2 linked regions of the Homo sapiens genome follow. The protein of the gene in region 1 interacts with the protein of each later gene in a biochemical or structural test. Each region holds a gene or a part of one and is shown on either strand. Other genes may lie near its edges.

The links.
Region 2: the proteins of HAND2 (region 1) and PHOX2A form a complex in vitro, tested with the Homo sapiens proteins (one study listed by BioGRID).

Annotation. Positions count from the first base shown.
Region 1 is NC_000004.12:173,528,697-173,532,602, reverse strand, and holds the start of HAND2 (heart- and neural crest derivatives-expressed protein 2), read left to right. Parts: upstream 1-2,373; 5' UTR 2,374-3,313; coding exon 3,314-3,868; exon of another isoform or gene 3,869-3,906. UniProt on the Homo sapiens protein: Essential for cardiac morphogenesis, particularly for the formation of the right ventricle and of the aortic arch arteries. Required for vascular development and regulation of angiogenesis, possibly through a VEGF signaling pathway.
Region 2 is NC_000011.10:72,242,544-72,246,449, reverse strand, and holds the start of PHOX2A (paired mesoderm homeobox protein 2A), read left to right. Parts: upstream 1-2,273; 5' UTR 2,274-2,445; coding exon 2,446-2,662; intron 2,663-3,906. UniProt on the Homo sapiens protein: May be involved in regulating the specificity of expression of the catecholamine biosynthetic genes. Acts as a transcription activator/factor. Could maintain the noradrenergic phenotype.

The sequences.
Region 1 (3,906 bases):
CATTTTTGTTTGTTTGTTTGTTTCAATTAAAAGCATGAGAAAAGCTAAATGTGGCAAGTTCTGAAGCTTTCAAAAGTGAGGCCACTCACCGCTGGTCTCTGGTGGACAGAGCATCTCAATCCCTAACTCAGCCCTCCTCTGGACTCTTCTTCCTCCCTTCAATTCCCAAAACTCCCTTTGGGTCTTAAAGCAGCCAACCAACTAATTTCCCTGAATTTTTATATGTTCCCAGCCCCAGTGCAATCTTACTTTGTCTACCTGCTCCCAAGGCCTAAATGTGTTTTTATAAACAGACTTTTCAAAAACGTATCAAATGTCAGAGAATTGAACTACCAGTATTTACACATTCGGGGTTTGCCTCCGGGTGAAAATGTAAACAGAACCCCCAACCACACTACCTGCATTCTTTCCTTGAAGAACCAGGTCTTTAAAAGGCTCTCCTTGTGCTAAAAAATTGCAGACCCACGCAAGTTGGGGGTTTAGAGCAGTAGGTCACTATTTTGTTCCGAGCTCAACTGCAAGCCCCTGGCGCTTACCAACGAGCCTAGTTTCAGTTAATCCCTATTCTAGGTTCAATGCTTTAAGACGCTTGTCTGGGGACGTTCAAGGATGTTAACCCCTTTCCTAGAAAAAGAATGGGCCCTGCACCGACTCTAATCCTGGGCTTTTAAGTCCCTGTCTCCTACCGCCCAGCCGCGGCAAACCTGAAATATATATATTTCTCAATCCTGCTGCCCAAGACTCTAGGGCTAGTGGAGGGCAGAGCCCGAGCACAGAGTCAACTGCAACACCGAAGTTGGGCGCCCTCCATTCGCACTGACCTCGCCTTCCTGCCCCAACCACTTTGTCGGCGGTGAGCAAGGAAAGGACTGTCCTTGTGGAGTCCTTCGGGTGGGGATCGCTTTGTGGCCTGCGGCCGGACTCTGCCCGCCTCCAAAGGGCGATGCTCAAGGTGGAGTCTTTGGTCTCCCTTGGGCTAACCTGGCCTGACCAGCGGCGAGCCCCAGGCCGCCCTGTCCCGCGCTGGCGCCGCAGGCCCTCGCCTCCCTCTAATTTACAGCCCGCGGGCTCCTGTTGACACCGTTTTCCACACCGAACTCCTTCGGGTGGAATCTGCATATACACATCAGCCTCCCCTCTCGGCTTGGGGCCAAGCCTGGGGTGATTTCAGCTCCTGCCATTTACCACCCGCCCTCGCCGCACGTGAGCCTTCTCAAGAAGCTCATGCCACACGGGCGCTGCGGCCCGGGTGCCCCGCGGCCCGGTGACTTACAAGTGGAGATCCATTTTCCGTTATAATGCGTTCAAGATCACCAAGGCCAGCAGTCTCAACATCCACGAGCCGTCCTCCCGGCCTGCCTCTTAAACTGGCGTTTAATGGTTCCCCTCCGATAACTAAACCTGCTTTCCACAGATGCCCGCTTTTATGAGGGAGGCAGGAATGCAGAGATATATTTATATGTTTGTTCATAAAAACTGGAAAATAAGCTCTGAACACGCCGTAAAAAATATTCAGTTACTTACCAAACAGGCTAGTTAAACCAGGGGAACACCGATACCAGCCACACTACAGATTCGGGGAATCGAGGTGCCCGCACTTCAAAATCGCCCAAGGTCTTCGTAGGGACTGGTGTCCCTGAAGGATGTGGAAATAACAGCATTTACAATCGGCTTGACATGTTCGCCCGGAGGACTCAGCCGTCATCTCCAAAGTTTGCCGCAATAACGTGAGCCACCCCAAACAGCTCTAACCGGGGTAACTTGGTGGGTAACTCAATAGCCACTGAGACCGGCGTTTCGAGCCTGTAAACGGGTCAAAGAAACACCCTTCTCCAGCCGCTCCTCGTCCCTGCTGGGGCAAAGAGCGCCAGCTCCCAGCCGCGCCTTTGTGGGGGCCCCCACCGCCCGTCACGAGGCTCCCGGCGCCCCTGCATAAAATTGTAAGAGGCTGCCTGCGTATATTTTCTTACCTCGATTACCTACAAAGCACTTCGAAAAGCAATACCTGCGTTTTCTTTCTTTCTTTCTTTTCAACCAGAAAAGAGAGCAGAGTGATACTGTACCTGGTTAGAGATTCTTCAATATTTGAGACTTGGGGGGAAAATATTTTAATAGTGAAGCATCTGTTAAACACTTGCATTATCCTCTGACTGATAAAAAAAGTTTTTTTAACCCTGCCCCCCCCCCCCGCCAAGTTTTAATTATCTTATGGTTATGAGGAGGTAGCCAATCCTGGAAGAGGACCTCGGCAATTAGCAACGTGAACATCAAAAAGTTTTATTGCCGAGAGCTCGAGGCGCCGCCCCTGCCGCCCCGGGATTGGCGTGAGGAGCCTCTGACGACATATATTAACCCGAGCGGCCCTAAAGATGTAGCTGTACATGGAGATCTTGCTGGGAAAATCCGCTTGCTCCCCTCACGTCGTCCAGCCCAGGAGAACCACCGCCGTCACCCCGGAGCTTCCTCGGCCACCGCGCAGAGCCCTCCGAGAGCCCGAGCCGCGGTCTTCGAGCTCCAAGGCTCATTCAGGGCCCCAGATCCTTGCCCCGAAAGGAGAGGATCTGAGAAAATGGATGCACTGAGACCTCTCTGAAAACCCTCCGAGAGAGCGCGAGAGGAGCGAGGACACGTTACTCGCAGCTAAAATCACATTTAAGGACCAAAACAACAACAACCAAAAATTTCATTAAAACAATAAGCGCCCAAGAACCCAGATCGGGCTGGTGGGGGGAGGGGAAGAGGCGGGAAGGGGAGGGTCGCACGGAGGTAGCTTTGCAGTGAGCAGTCGACCCCGCCGCCCCCCGGCACAGCTGGACCGGCTCCTCCAGCCGCGGCTCAGACTCGCCCCTGGATTCCGGGTTAGCTTCGGTGCCAGGACCGCGGCCCGGGCTTGGATTCCCGAGACTCCGCGTACCAGCCTCGCGGGAGCCCCGGCACCTTTGTATGAGCACGAGAGGATTCTGCCTCCGCGCAGCAGCCCGGGAAGCAGGAGCCGAAGCGCGGGCCGTGGAGCAAGGCGGGAACCGGAGGCGGCGGCGGCGGCGGCCAGGGGCGCACGGTGCCAGGACCAGCTCGCCGCGCCCCATGGGGAGCCGGCGGCCGCAGCGCTGCTGAGGCGGGCCCGGCTGGCCAGGCGGGGGGACGGGGCCCGGGCTGCAGCAGCCCCCTCTGCGGCTGCCGGGCGGGCCCGGGCGCCCGGGGGCTGGGGGGTGGGGGGTGGGGGAGGACGCCGAGCGCTGAGGCAGGGGCCCGGGCCGAGGGCGCGGCGGGGCTGCGCGCACGCTGGGGCGCGTGGAGGGGCGCGGAGGGCGAAATGAGTCTGGTAGGTGGTTTTCCCCACCACCCGGTGGTGCACCACGAGGGCTACCCGTTTGCCGCCGCCGCCGCCGCAGCTGCCGCCGCCGCCGCCAGCCGCTGCAGCCATGAGGAGAACCCCTACTTCCATGGCTGGCTCATCGGCCACCCCGAGATGTCGCCCCCCGACTACAGCATGGCCCTGTCCTACAGCCCCGAGTATGCCAGCGGCGCCGCCGGCCTGGACCACTCCCATTACGGGGGGGTGCCGCCGGGCGCCGGGCCCCCGGGCCTGGGGGGGCCGCGCCCGGTGAAGCGCCGAGGCACCGCCAACCGCAAGGAGCGGCGCAGGACTCAGAGCATCAACAGCGCCTTCGCCGAACTGCGCGAGTGCATCCCCAACGTACCCGCCGACACCAAACTCTCCAAAATCAAGACCCTGCGCCTGGCCACCAGCTACATCGCCTACCTCATGGACCTGCTGGCCAAGGACGACCAGAATGGCGAGGCGGAGGCCTTCAAGGCAGAGATCAAGAAGACCGACGTGAAAGAGGAGAAGAGGAAGAAGGAGCTGGTCAGTACCAGGGGGCGGCAGGCGGTGGGGCTGAGGGG
Region 2 (3,906 bases), on another chromosome or scaffold:
AGTATCTCAAAAATAAGTAAGTAAACAGACAAATACTGTATGATTCCACTTATACGAGGTCCCTGGTCAAAATAACAGAGACCAGCCTGGGCAACATAGTGAGACCCCCATCTCTACAGAAGATTTAAAAATTAGCTAGGCATGGTGGTGTGCACGTGTAGTCCCAGCTACTCAGGACGCTGAGGCGGGAGGATCGCCTGAGCCAAGGAATGCAAGACTGCACCATGATCTCGTTGCTGTACTCCAGCCTGAGTGACAGAGTGAAAGACTGTCTGAAAAAAAAAAACACAAAATCATAGGGACAGAAAGAGGAATGGCGGTTTGCAGGTAGGATGGGGAAATGGAAGGTGTTGTTTAACGGGTAGAGTTTTGATTTTACAGGATTCAAAGAGTTATGGAGATGGATGTATTAATACATAAATATGAATGTATTTACTACCACAGAACTATAGCTCAAAGTGGCTAAGATGGTAAATTTTATGTTATGTGTATTTTGCCACAATAAAAACATTTGACAAGAGGTAATTTGAGAAACCTCAAAGAAATCCCCTGGCATGGAGTGGTTCCGGAGATTGGGGATAGAGAGTCCTCCTGGGAAGCCCAGAACGGATGATGGGGGAAGGATTACCTGAGGAGAGGCGCACTCCCCTCTGTCCTGACAAACTTGGGGAGAATTCCAGGAGTCCTTCTATCAACCCCCAAGGACTTCAGCTGGAAACAAAGACACGCCCTTCCCGCGGCTTCTCCATGGGTCTAGGACTCCCCATCTACAAGACCTGCCAAGATCGGTGGAAGAGGCTGGGGGTTGAGTGGACGAGCTGCCCAACCCAGCTCAGGAGCGACGGAAAAGTTATCTGTTCCCTTCTCTTGGTAAGGATTCTGAATGTGTCCCGCTGTCCCACAGCACGAGGGAGCTGGTGACTGAATCTGTGCAGGGATGTCTGGGCCAGGTGCAGACTGAGTCTAGGTGGTTTCCCTGGAGAAAAAAAGCGGGGGGCCCTGGAGAACAGGGGTAAGAGACTGAAGAACAATAAAGAGGTCACGGGGTACGTTCCCTTTCTGACATCCATCGCATCCTGAGCCCAAGGTCACAGGAGAGGGTCGCATACTGCAGATGGAGCTGAGGGAACGGGGGGAGAGGCAGGCGGGCCCTGAAGGTGCAAGGTCGTGTGGGCCTCGGGACAAGTCAGGGTAGAGGGACCTGGCTCCCACGACCCTCCCTCTCCGCAGCCCCGTGGAGGCCGCACCCCAGAGCCTCCAGCATCATCCCTGGGCCCCTCTGCGCTCCAGCCCTCGTGTCTAAGCTCCCCGGAGGCGTTTTCTCTCCGCTCTCAGCCTCTGCTCCCGCGCTTGTGGCTGTCCCTGGCCCTGTCTCTCTCAGACTGTCCCTGGGCATATGTGTCTGTCTCACGATTCCTGCCTCTGTTTTGTCTCATCCCTCCCTTGCTCTCCACCGCAGTCCTGGTTGCCGTCCATGTCTCATCCCGACCCCTTCTGTCTCCATGCCTCCCTCACTCTCTTTCTCGTCCCCCTGTCTCCCTGTCTCCTCTTGTCTCTCTCTTAACCTCATCTCCTGTCTCTGCCCTGTCCCCGCTCCATCCTGTCTCTCTCTTACCCTCATCTCCTGTCTCTGCCCTGTCCCCGCTCCATCCTGTCTTTCGCTGTGTATGTTCCGTCCTTGTCTCCCTCTGTGTACCTGTATCTCTTGTCCCTGTCTCCATCACTGTTTCTGCCCCTTTCTCTCCCGGTCTCTGTTTCCTCTGTCTATCCACGTCCCTTCCCTGTCCCCATCCCAGGCTCCGTCTCTTCCCGGTCTCCATCCCCCTTCCTGGGCCGCCTCCGCAGTCTCCGCCGGGATGGGACCTCGCTGGGGGCGGGGCTGAGGGGCCAGATCGGAATAACTCGGTTATCAGAGCGAATTGAATTAACTTCTTCACACGAGCGCCGCCAGGCCTGCCTCCCCTCCCTTCCGCGGGGCCGCAGGTGGGGAGGCCCGGGAAAAGGGTCGGGACCCTCTGGCCTCGGACGCTGTGTAGAGACCGAAGGTCTGGTCCGGATTGGGGCAGGATAGGGACTCCGGGGATAGGGTCCCGCGCATCCCAGCTCCACACCTCTGAGCCCTAAGACGGCGGCGGGGACCCTTCGGGGTGGGGGTCGGGGCGGCTTTGGGCGGTGTCTGGGCCTCCTAGGCCCCGCCCCTTCGGAGCTCGCCCCGCCCCGCCCCCCTCCGCGGGGTCCTGCGCGTTAAAAGGCGCGCGGGCCGGGCTGGCTGCACTTGCGTTGCACCCGGGCTGAGTGCGGCCGCGACGGGGCGGGCGGACTCTCGGGCGCTCAGAGCTGGCCTCGGGTCCTCGGAGCCTGGCGCTCGAACCTCCCTTCCGACCTCCACCCGGACCCCGACCCCGACCCGGCCTGGCCCGGCCCCCGCCCCCGCCCCCCGGGCCGATGGACTACTCCTACCTCAATTCGTACGACTCGTGCGTGGCGGCCATGGAGGCGTCCGCCTACGGCGACTTTGGCGCCTGCAGCCAGCCCGGCGGCTTCCAATACAGCCCCCTGCGGCCCGCTTTCCCCGCGGCAGGGCCGCCCTGCCCCGCGCTCGGCTCCTCCAACTGCGCACTTGGCGCCCTACGCGACCACCAGCCCGCGCCCTACTCGGCAGGTGAGCGCAGCCCCGGCCCAACCCTCCCTCCAATTCCTGCAGAATCCCTGGGCCCGCTCGCCAAGTGAATGCGACTGTCCCCCTCAGCCGCCCCCATTCCTGCCTTGGCCAGACCCTCCAATGCCCCGAGAGACCCCCAGAATACGAGGTTCTCCTCCGCAGGAATGAGCCTCACCCTCTCATCTCTCCTGTTCCTTTTTCTCGTTGCCAAATCTCTGTCTCGTGCCCTTCAGGTCAAGGAAATATATCCCCATCCAGCTCTGGGCCCCTTACCAGGCCTTCCCCTCACCACCTGCAAAGACTGACCACTAAACCTCTACAAGCGCTGGATCTTTGAAAAAGGCTCCCAGCCCAGCCCTATCACCACTTATCACCCCACCCCATCACCGCTGCCCCACGAGATGCATGACCCCCAGCAAGGACCTCTCCAGGCAGCTGAGCTGCCCAGACGGGAAGCTTCCTAGAGCTCGCGTGGCCATCAGGCCCCTCCTGCCCTGTCTTGGACCCACGCTGCCTGGGACCGAACCCTTCTGTAGCCACCAAAACCAGATCCCGTAGCCCGCAATAAAGGGGCCCGGGTTTTTAAGCCACTTGTATTTCCCCATTCCCCCAGACTCTCCCAGCTAGAGTTCTGTAGAACCCGGAAGCAGCTCCTGCATCCCCAAGACTTTAGATCCAAGTCCCTGTCCAAACCCTCAACCTCACTGAGCTTCTCAGTCATCTCAGCCCTCTGATTAGAGTCCCAGCCTGCCCTATGTAATCTTATCGCCTTCCCTCCTGGGAAGACTGCCGGGGACCCAAGTAGAAGACTGGGGCCTAAGGGCCAGGCGCGGTGGCTCATGCCTGTAATCCCAGCACTTTGGGAGGCCAAGGCGGGTGGATCACTTGAGGTCAAGAGTTCAAGACCAGCCTAACCAACATGGTGAAACCCCATCTCCATTAAAAATACAAAAAAAAAAAAAAATTAGCTGGGCATGGTGGCCCACGCCTGTAATCCCAGCTACTTGGGAGTCTGAGGCAGGAGAATCGCTTGAACCTGGGAGGCAGAGGTTGCAGTGAGCTGAGACTGTGCCATTGCATTCCAGCCTGGGTGACAGAATGAGACTCGGTCTCAAAAAAAAAAGAAGAAGAAGAAGAAGAAGACTGGGCCCTAGGCTGGGGTTTGGGGAAGAGATACGAGAAATGAGAACCTGGATTTGGAGAAATGAGGCCCAGGGTGGGGAGATTGGGTACCCTGAGCCAGA